Regions from separate parts of the Homo sapiens genome. Here region 2 is linked to region 1. The links come from fine-mapping of genetic effects on gene expression. A gene starts in region 1. The other region holds a variant in brackets. All regions are shown on one strand. Distances are between the middles of the regions.

The links. PIP is the estimated chance that this variant, and not a neighbour inherited with it, causes the effect.
Region 2: its variant is the best candidate, but not a certain one, in a credible set for the expression of GCNA in blood mononuclear cells (TOPMed, PIP 0.52).

Annotation. Positions count from the first base shown.
Region 1 is chrX:71,576,262-71,580,438 of GRCh38, forward strand. It overlaps GCNA (germ cell nuclear acidic peptidase), which reads left to right and starts at 2,176. Exons shown (of 13, transcript NM_052957.5): 1 at 2,176-2,261. RefSeq lists an enhancer at 2,383-3,024.
Region 2 is chrX:71,554,616-71,558,836 of GRCh38, forward strand. It overlaps OGT (O-linked N-acetylglucosamine (GlcNAc) transferase), which reads left to right. Exons shown (of 22, transcript NM_181672.3): 7 at 575-770; 8 at 1,339-1,479; 9 at 2,065-2,165; 10 at 2,337-2,490; 11 at 2,580-2,681; 12 at 2,878-3,057. Among named protein-coding and RNA genes, the nearest start is that of GCNA, 22 kb to the right of the region's middle. The variant G/A (reference allele first, on the strand shown) is at 2,265.

The DNA of each region.
Region 1 (4,177 bases):
TCCCAACTACATGCGAGGCTGAGACAGGAGAATCGCTTGAACCCGGGAGGCAGAGGTTGCAGTGAGCTGAGATCGTGCCATTGCATTCCAGCCTGGACAACAGAGTGAGATGTCATCTCAAAAAAAAAAAAAGACAAAGCCTGTGATCCCCAACACACCCATTCATGCTTGCTCCTCTTTTGCTTGTGACCTCTCTGCTTTCATTTACCCTTGTAGTCTCGGTTTTCATGTGGACCATTCTTTTCTTGGCTCTTGGGGGCAAAATTATTTTCCTTCCTGCTCTGTATAGTGGTCGAACTCTGCCACAAGCATCAGGGAGGAAGATATCAATTCATGATTGATATCATGAATTGATATCATGGCAAATGCTGTTTGCCAGTTTTCTCAGATATGAGAGGGAAGATTTTTTTCAGTAAAATTTTGCATGATTTAATTCCCAACTTCTTAAAGCCCTCATGTGGATTGGTGTTTGTTTCCTAAAAGATTATTATGGGAAGAAAGCCTACTCAAAAGTTTTTACTCCCATTCGCTTCTCTTGAAAAATCTACATTATTTCCAGTCTACTTCAGCTCCTCCTGCCTTCAATCTAAAGGAGTTGCTTGCACACCTTGAGTAAATGTGTGTAATTTCTGAACTGCCCATTTTAAGATTTGATTCCAAACCTATCCCATTCTTTTACTTGAAGCATATGCCTCTCAATTATAGCTAACATCCTGGTTCTTTGCCCAAGCCTCTGAGGCACAGTTATGTAATCCCCATTCTTATAAAGAGGCTTGTAGAGGTTAATTTGCAACTTCATTGTAGAGAGAGAGAGTAATCAGCCCCCTTTATCCAATTTTTTTATCAACTGAGAAAGTATCTGTATTTAGGTAGGCAATCTGGTGCTTAAGAGCAGGTTTTGGAACTAGAGTTGGAGTTTGAATCTCAGCTCTGCCACTTTTTTTTTTTTTTTTGAGATGGAGTCTCGCCCTGTCCCCATGCTGGAGTGCAATGGCACGATCTCGGCTCACTGCAACCTCCGCCTCCCAGGTTCCAGCGATTCTCCTGCCTCAGCCTCCCGAGTAGCTGGGATTACAGGCGCGGGCCACCACACGCGGCTATTTTTTTTTTTTTATCTTTAGTAGAGACGGGGTTTCACCATGTTGACCAGGCTGGTCTCAAGCTCCTGACTTCGTGATCCACCCGCCTCAGCCTCCCAAAGTGCTGGGGTTACAGGCGTGAGCCACTGTGCCCGGCCAGCTCTGCCACTTTCTAGCTGTGTGATCTCTAAAATGAGAGTGCTAACAGTTGCCTACTTTTTAAAGTGTTGTATGAATTAAGTCGTAAGACACTTGGAATAATGCTTAGCACAAAATAGTATCAAACGCAGGGACATTTTATGTGTGTTCTGTTACCCAAAGGCATACATTACGAAATATATAGATGCTCGCTGGAGAAACTGGCACAATCTAGAAAGCGCTGTTTTCCCCGTTTGTTTTTCTTGGTGTGTATGGAGTGAGTGCCAAAAAGCCTCAAGTAACCTTTTTTTATCTCCAGGGTTTGGAGGGTTCTGGAAGTAAACATCATAGTTCGCCGTTGCCAGGCGCTGTTGAGTTGCTGCCTTGCTCTTATCTAGGGGTCTAGATGGCCTTCCCTGCAACCCCCGCCCCCCTGCGCTCCCGCGTCCCCCCGCGCCCCGCCCTCCCCTCGGTGTTCCCGTCCACGCCCCTGCTCCCGCGCCTTCGCTCCAGTTCTCGTGCCCCCGCCCCTCCCCCCGCGCCCTTTCCCAGTGGTTGCAATAACGGACTTAGAGGTCTGGACAATTCAAGTAAGGAACAAGGCTCGCTTATCCAAGTTCTCGCAGGATAAAAGTTTGTTATGAACGATTTCACATGGTTTCTCTTTATCAGAAAGTTGTTAGGGACTTTTAATCGCAGAATTGGCCTCGGGTGCCCACGCTCTAGTATTGAAATGGCGGTTTTGGGACAAATAAGCAACATCCGTGGGAGTGGAAAGCGACAGACCTGATCCCGGAAGCGTTACAGCTAGGCGCCAAGTTCACAGGCGCGAAGTTCAAATTTGTCTTGTGACCACTGTGATAGGTGGGTACAGGGGAGCGCGGGCGAGCACACGTGAATTACTGCTACCGCCCCCTAGGTCCGGGCACTATAAAGGGGCCTGCGCCTGGCGTTGTTCATCGCAGTTGCTCCGGATCTTTGCACACACTCCACGGGCAGTTGGAGGTGAGCTGCTGCCGGCCACGCCAGAGGCTGCAACACCAGGTAGGTGACCGGCTGGTCGGACTGAGATGGGTGCTGAAGTGGTCCAGAGGTTAATCCTAATTGAGTGACTTAATTAAAATCAGGACCACTGTATACCTTGGACTCTGGTTGCCCGTGTAGGCCTGAGGTGGGAGTAGAGGAAGTGGCAGCGAGGGGAGAAGTGGAGGCGCCAGTGGTAGCATTGGGGGAGGTGGGGGCGCCCATGGTGGTGTAGGAAACATATGGTGGCGCCAGTGGCGGCATTGGGAGGGGTGGGGGCGCCGGTGGCGGCGTAGGAGCAGCTGGTAGTGCCAGTGGCGGCGTGGGGAGAAGGGGCGCTGGTGGCGTCATTGCAGATAGTGGGGGGCCTGGTGGTGGCGTAGAAGGAGGTGTTGGTGCCAGTGGCGGGTGGAGAGAAGTAGGGGCACCAGTGGCGGCGTTGGGGGAAGTGGGGGTGCCTGTGGCAGTGTCGGGGAAGTGGGGGTGCTGGTGGTGGTGTAGGAGCATGTGGTAGCACCAGTGACGGTGTGGGGAGAAGTAGGGGCACCATTGGCGGCCTTGGGGGAAGTGGGAGCGCTGGTGGTGGCGTAGGAGCGTGTGGTGGCGCCAGTGGCTATGTAGGAATACGTGGCGCCGGTGGCGGCGCGGGGAGAAGTGAGGGCGCTGGTTGCGGCACTGGGGGGAGGTGGGGGCCCCAGTGGTGGTGTAGGAACAGGTGGTGTCCCTAGTGGCGGGTGGGGAGAAGTAGGGATGCCAGTGGCAGCGTGGGGGGAGGTGGGGGTGCCAGTTGCGGCCTAGGAGTACTTGGTGGCGTTGGTGGCATAGGAGCACATAGTAGCGCTGGCGGTGTGGGGAGAAGTGGAGGCGCCGGTGGCCGCATTGAAGGTGGGGGTGCCAATGGGGGCGTTGAGGGAAGTGGGGGGTTCTGGTGGCGGCGTAGGAACACTTGGTGGTGGTGGAAGTGGCCTAGGAGCACGTGGTGGTGCTGGTGGGCGTGGGGAGAAGTGAGGATGCTGGTGGTGGCATTGGAGGTGGGGGTGCCAGTGGCTGTGGGGAGAAGTGGGGGTGCCCGTTGCAGCATTGGGGGGAGGTGGGAGCTAGTGGTTGTGGGTAGGGGTGTGTGTGTGGGGGTTGAGGTCTCTTTGGCTGAGGACTGAGTGGTGGTGGGAGACAGGAGTGGGGTAGGGCAGAAGTTGGATAGAAGTGTGGGGGAGTGGAAGCCTGCTTGGAAAACCGGTTGGGAGCAGTTGAAGGTGGCTGGAGGTGGTTGGAGGTGCGAGTGTGGGGGAAGGGTGGTGGGGTTGAGGCCTGATTGGTGGAAGACTGAGGTGAGAATGGTGGGGGTAGGGTCCAGACCTGATAGGAGGAAGGAGTTGGGGAGGGGTCAAGGCCTGTTTGGTCGAAGATTGGCTAGAGGCTGGAGGCAGGAATAGGAAGCGTGGAGGGGGTGGCCGGATTCATATAAGACCAGTGAGAAGCCAGAGTGGCGGGAGGTAAGGGGGCAGTGGAGGTTGGACAGAAGGAAGAAGGTGATGAGGGGGCGGTGGTAGCCTATTCTGGGTAAGATTGACAGAGTGGGGAGTAAAGAGGTAGGGGAAGGGGGAGAGGTTGACACCCGGTAGGTGGGAGACTTCCTTGGGGCAGGAGTAGGGGGACTGAAGGTTGTAGGGAGGTGGAGGGCCAGTGGGATGTGGGGGCGGTCGAGCCCTGATACGTGGAAGACTGGCAAGTTGAGGTGGGAGTGGAGGGAGTGGGAAGTGGGGGCGGGTGCAGGGTGGGAAGAGATTGGGGTGGTAGAGGCCTGAGTGGGAAAAGTTTGCAACAAAACAAATTTAAATCCTTTTCATTTTGCAGAGCAAAGTTTCGGCTTTAAGGTGGGGAAGATACCCAAAGATAAATGCAGAATGTAAATGTAGAGATGTCTCTGCTTTTGAGTT
Region 2 (4,221 bases), 22 kb before region 1:
AATTTTCTTGAATCTTTGTTGTATTGACACTTGACAGTTTGGACCGAAATGATGACAATAGTCCATTGAAGCATATTTGCCTTTTCTAGCACGTTGTTCTCTGCCCATGTCCTGTGTTGCCTTTTATTTATAGATGTTGTTCGTTGCCTGACTTTTTGTTGTTGGCTTTCCTCAAAGCCGTTATCCTTCTCATTGGGAGTTTAGTTGAAATTTTTTTATTGTTAAAATGGTTGAAATGATTCTTTCTTAGACTAAATTATTCCTTTGACCTGATTTTAGAAAGCAAAGTAAATCCAGACTTTTAAATTTTTTGTTGTTGTCAAAGGAAAGCCTATTTTTTATGTGGGAGTAGAAAACTTCCCAGTGTAAAGACACATTTTATAAAGGTGTGATTTTGGTTTGAGGTTAAAATATAATACAGCATGAATTATGTAATTAATTACAATTACTTGATATATTTTGATATAGTACAGCTTGAATGAGTTGTAACAAACCATCCATTAAGCATGAGTTACATTTTGTGTGTGTGTGTGTGTGTGTGTGTGTGTGTGTGTGTGTGTGTGTTTATTTACAGAGCTGTGGCAGCTTATCTTCGTGCCCTAAGTTTGAGTCCAAATCACGCAGTGGTGCACGGCAACCTGGCTTGTGTATACTATGAGCAAGGCCTGATAGATCTGGCAATAGACACCTACAGGCGGGCTATCGAACTACAACCACATTTCCCTGATGCTTACTGCAACCTAGCCAATGCTCTCAAAGAGAAGGGCAGTGTAAGGATTTTTACTCATTCTATTTGTTATCTGGTAGGATTAAGAGTCTTTTCTGGCCAGGTGTGGTGGCTCACACTTGTAATGCCAGCACTTCGGGAGGCCGAGATCAGAGGATTGCTTGAGCTTAGGGTTTCGAGACCAGCCTAGGCAACATGACGAAACCCTGTCTCTACAAGAAATACAAAAATTAGCCGGGCATGGTGGCACACACCTGTAGTCCCAGCTCCTTGGGAGGCCGAGGTGGGAGGATCGATTGAGTCCTGGGAGGTTGAGGCTGCAGTGGGCCATGATTGTGCCACAGCACTCCAGCCTGGGCAACAGAGCACGAGACTCTGTCTCAAAAAAATCACAAAAACCAAAAAACAGCAAAAAAGGAAAGTCTTTTGTACAAGTATTGAGATGGTATATTGGTTTACTTTAGAGTTTTGGTTGAGGGTAAGAATACCAAAAAATATCAATTTTCTGTAGCATTACCAGCCATTAGGCTTAATTAAACAATTATTAGAACAGTATCAGTGGAGGCTTTATGATTCTGTACAGTTTTTGAAGACTTTGTTTTGTTTTCTAGGTTGCTGAAGCAGAAGATTGTTATAATACAGCTCTCCGTCTGTGTCCCACCCATGCAGACTCTCTGAATAACCTAGCCAATATCAAACGAGAACAGGGAAACATTGAAGAGGCAGTTCGCTTGTATCGTAAAGCATTAGAAGTATGTGAGGGTGGTGTAGCTGGGCATTTAGCATGATAGTAGAGGGAAAGCAGTTAAGTTTACCATCATCCACCTCTTTTGTAAAAATAGTGGTTGAATCATTTACAAGAGGATTATTCATTGAAGTAACAATTGAGTACCTAAGGTATGATGTGAGGCCCTATGTGACATTCCAGAAAATCCCTGCATTCAGAGTTCATTATTCTGTGGATAAGATCTGTACAAAAAAATTAAACATTAACCCACAGTTCAAGAGAAGTTACTTATAAGTATATAATCTTAGTGCCTGATGGCTGTATGGTAGTGGTTAGTAGATGTGGTAGGAGTTTAGCAGAGAGAGATTTCAGTGGTGTTGGAGTGGTCAGGATAAACTAAGAGGAGAAGAGGTGTACCTCATTATGTTTGAAACAAGAAGAGGTATAAAATAGAGGAAGAGGTAGAATTTGAGAATGAATAGACTTGGAAAAAGTAGAGACAAATTTAGGGGTTTAAATGTACTTGAGCAAAGTTCTTAAGGTTGTGGTGAATTATTACTGCTGCTTTAGCAATTTTTTTAACCTCAGTTCTGATCTTGACTCTTTATAGGTCTTCCCAGAGTTTGCTGCTGCCCATTCAAATTTAGCAAGTGTACTGCAGCAGCAGGGAAAACTGCAGGAAGCTCTGATGCATTATAAGGAGGCTATTCGGTAAGAGACACTAACAGCCTTATTTTTAAAATTATTTTTAATTTTAAAATGTTTGACATTCGGCACATTGCAGATGCTAAAATGGCTTTAAATAACAAC[G/A]GAATAAGTTAGCATTACAGTGGGTTAAAGATTTTTGTATTGGAGAAATAAAACCTTTGGCTTCTCTTTTAGAATCAGTCCTACCTTTGCTGATGCCTACTCTAATATGGGAAACACTCTAAAGGAGATGCAGGATGTTCAGGGAGCCTTGCAGTGTTATACGCGTGCCATCCAAATTAATCCTGCATTTGCAGATGCACATAGCAATCTGGCTTCCATTCATAAGGTACTACTGTTTATTATAATATGTGCAGTTTAACACCTAAAATTTAACTTTTGGAAATTTTTTACCATCCTGCTTTATTTATTTTCCAGGATTCAGGGAATATTCCAGAAGCCATAGCTTCTTACCGCACGGCTCTGAAACTTAAGCCTGATTTTCCTGATGCTTATTGTAACTTGGCTCATTGCCTGCAGGTAAAGAATAACAGGCCAGTAATTGGCTCTCAGTGTTGTAATAGCTTTTTAATTGTTGTATGCCATAAGAATCCAAGCCTGACTGGAAATAGTATTTTTAATAGGCTATCTGACATTACTTTAGGCCAAAGACATATCAAATATTAAATCCTGGGATAGGACTTTCTGGATAATAACTTGTTTTTGCTTTCTCTAGATTGTCTGTGATTGGACAGACTATGATGAGCGAATGAAGAAGTTGGTCAGTATTGTGGCTGACCAGTTAGAGAAGAATAGGTTGCCTTCTGTGCATCCTCATCATAGTATGCTATATCCTCTTTCTCATGGCTTCAGGAAGGCTATTGCTGAGAGGCACGGCAACCTGTGCTTAGATAAGGTGTGATTCTTTTGTTTTAATCTTTTTGTTGTAAACTAAAACACAAATACAGAAAACTGTAAAAATCAAATCTGTGGCTTAATGAACGATTATAAAGTGAACACCACCCAAGTCGAGAAATAAAACTTTTGTGGGCCACTTCAGAACCCCTTCCATTGTGTCCTGAGTATAACCCCCTGCACTTCATAAGACGGAATCCTTAACTCCTTCACTTAAACACTAATGATAGACTGATGGTACTTTTCTTTAAGTTGAAAGCCATAATTTTTTTTTCTTTTATCTTTTTTTTCTTTTTTTTTTGAGACGGGGTCTTGCTCTGTCGCCCAGGCTGGAGTGCAGCGGTGTGATCATGGCTTACTGCAGCCTTGACCTCCCCGAGCTTAGGTGATCCTCCCACCTCAGCCTCCTGAGTAGCTGGGACTACAGGCGCATGCCACCACACCTAATTTTGTGTTTTTTGTAGAGATGGGGTTTTGCTATGTTGCCCAAGCTGGTCTTGAACCTCTGGGCTCAAGTGATCTGCCCACCTCGCCCGGCCAAAGTGCTGGGATTACGGGTGTGAGCCACCGCGCCTGGCCAGCCATCATGTTTAATGGAGTGCTTGGTATTTTGTATTCACCTTTGAGAATTAGAGCAGTACTTGATCAAGGATTGGATCAAAGGTTGGATAATAGATTGGAGTGCTAGGTGTACTTTTTTTTTTTTTTTGAGACATAGTGTCTCTGTCATCCAGACTGCAGTGCAGTGGTGCCATCTCAGCTCATTGCAACCTCTGTCTCCCAGGTTAAAGTGATGCTCGTGCCTTAGCTTCCCGAGGAGCTAGGATTACAGGCGTGTGCCACCACGCCTGGCTAATTTTTGTATTTTTAGTAGAGATAGGGCTTTGCCATGCTAGGCTGGTCTCGAAATCCTGACCTCAGGTGATCCACCTGCCTCAGCCTCCCAAAGTGCTGGGATTACAGGCATGAGCCACTGCCCCCAGCCATAATTTTGTTTTTAGAAAATGTTTCCCTATAGAATTTTCTAAAATGCGGGAGGAAACCATGCTCTGTCCATACTGCTTCATACCTACAAGTGTTAGATTTGCTCGTACTTTTTTTTTTTTTTTTTTTTTTTTTTGAGACAGGGTCTTGCTCTGTTGCCCAGGCTGGAGTGCAGTGGCAC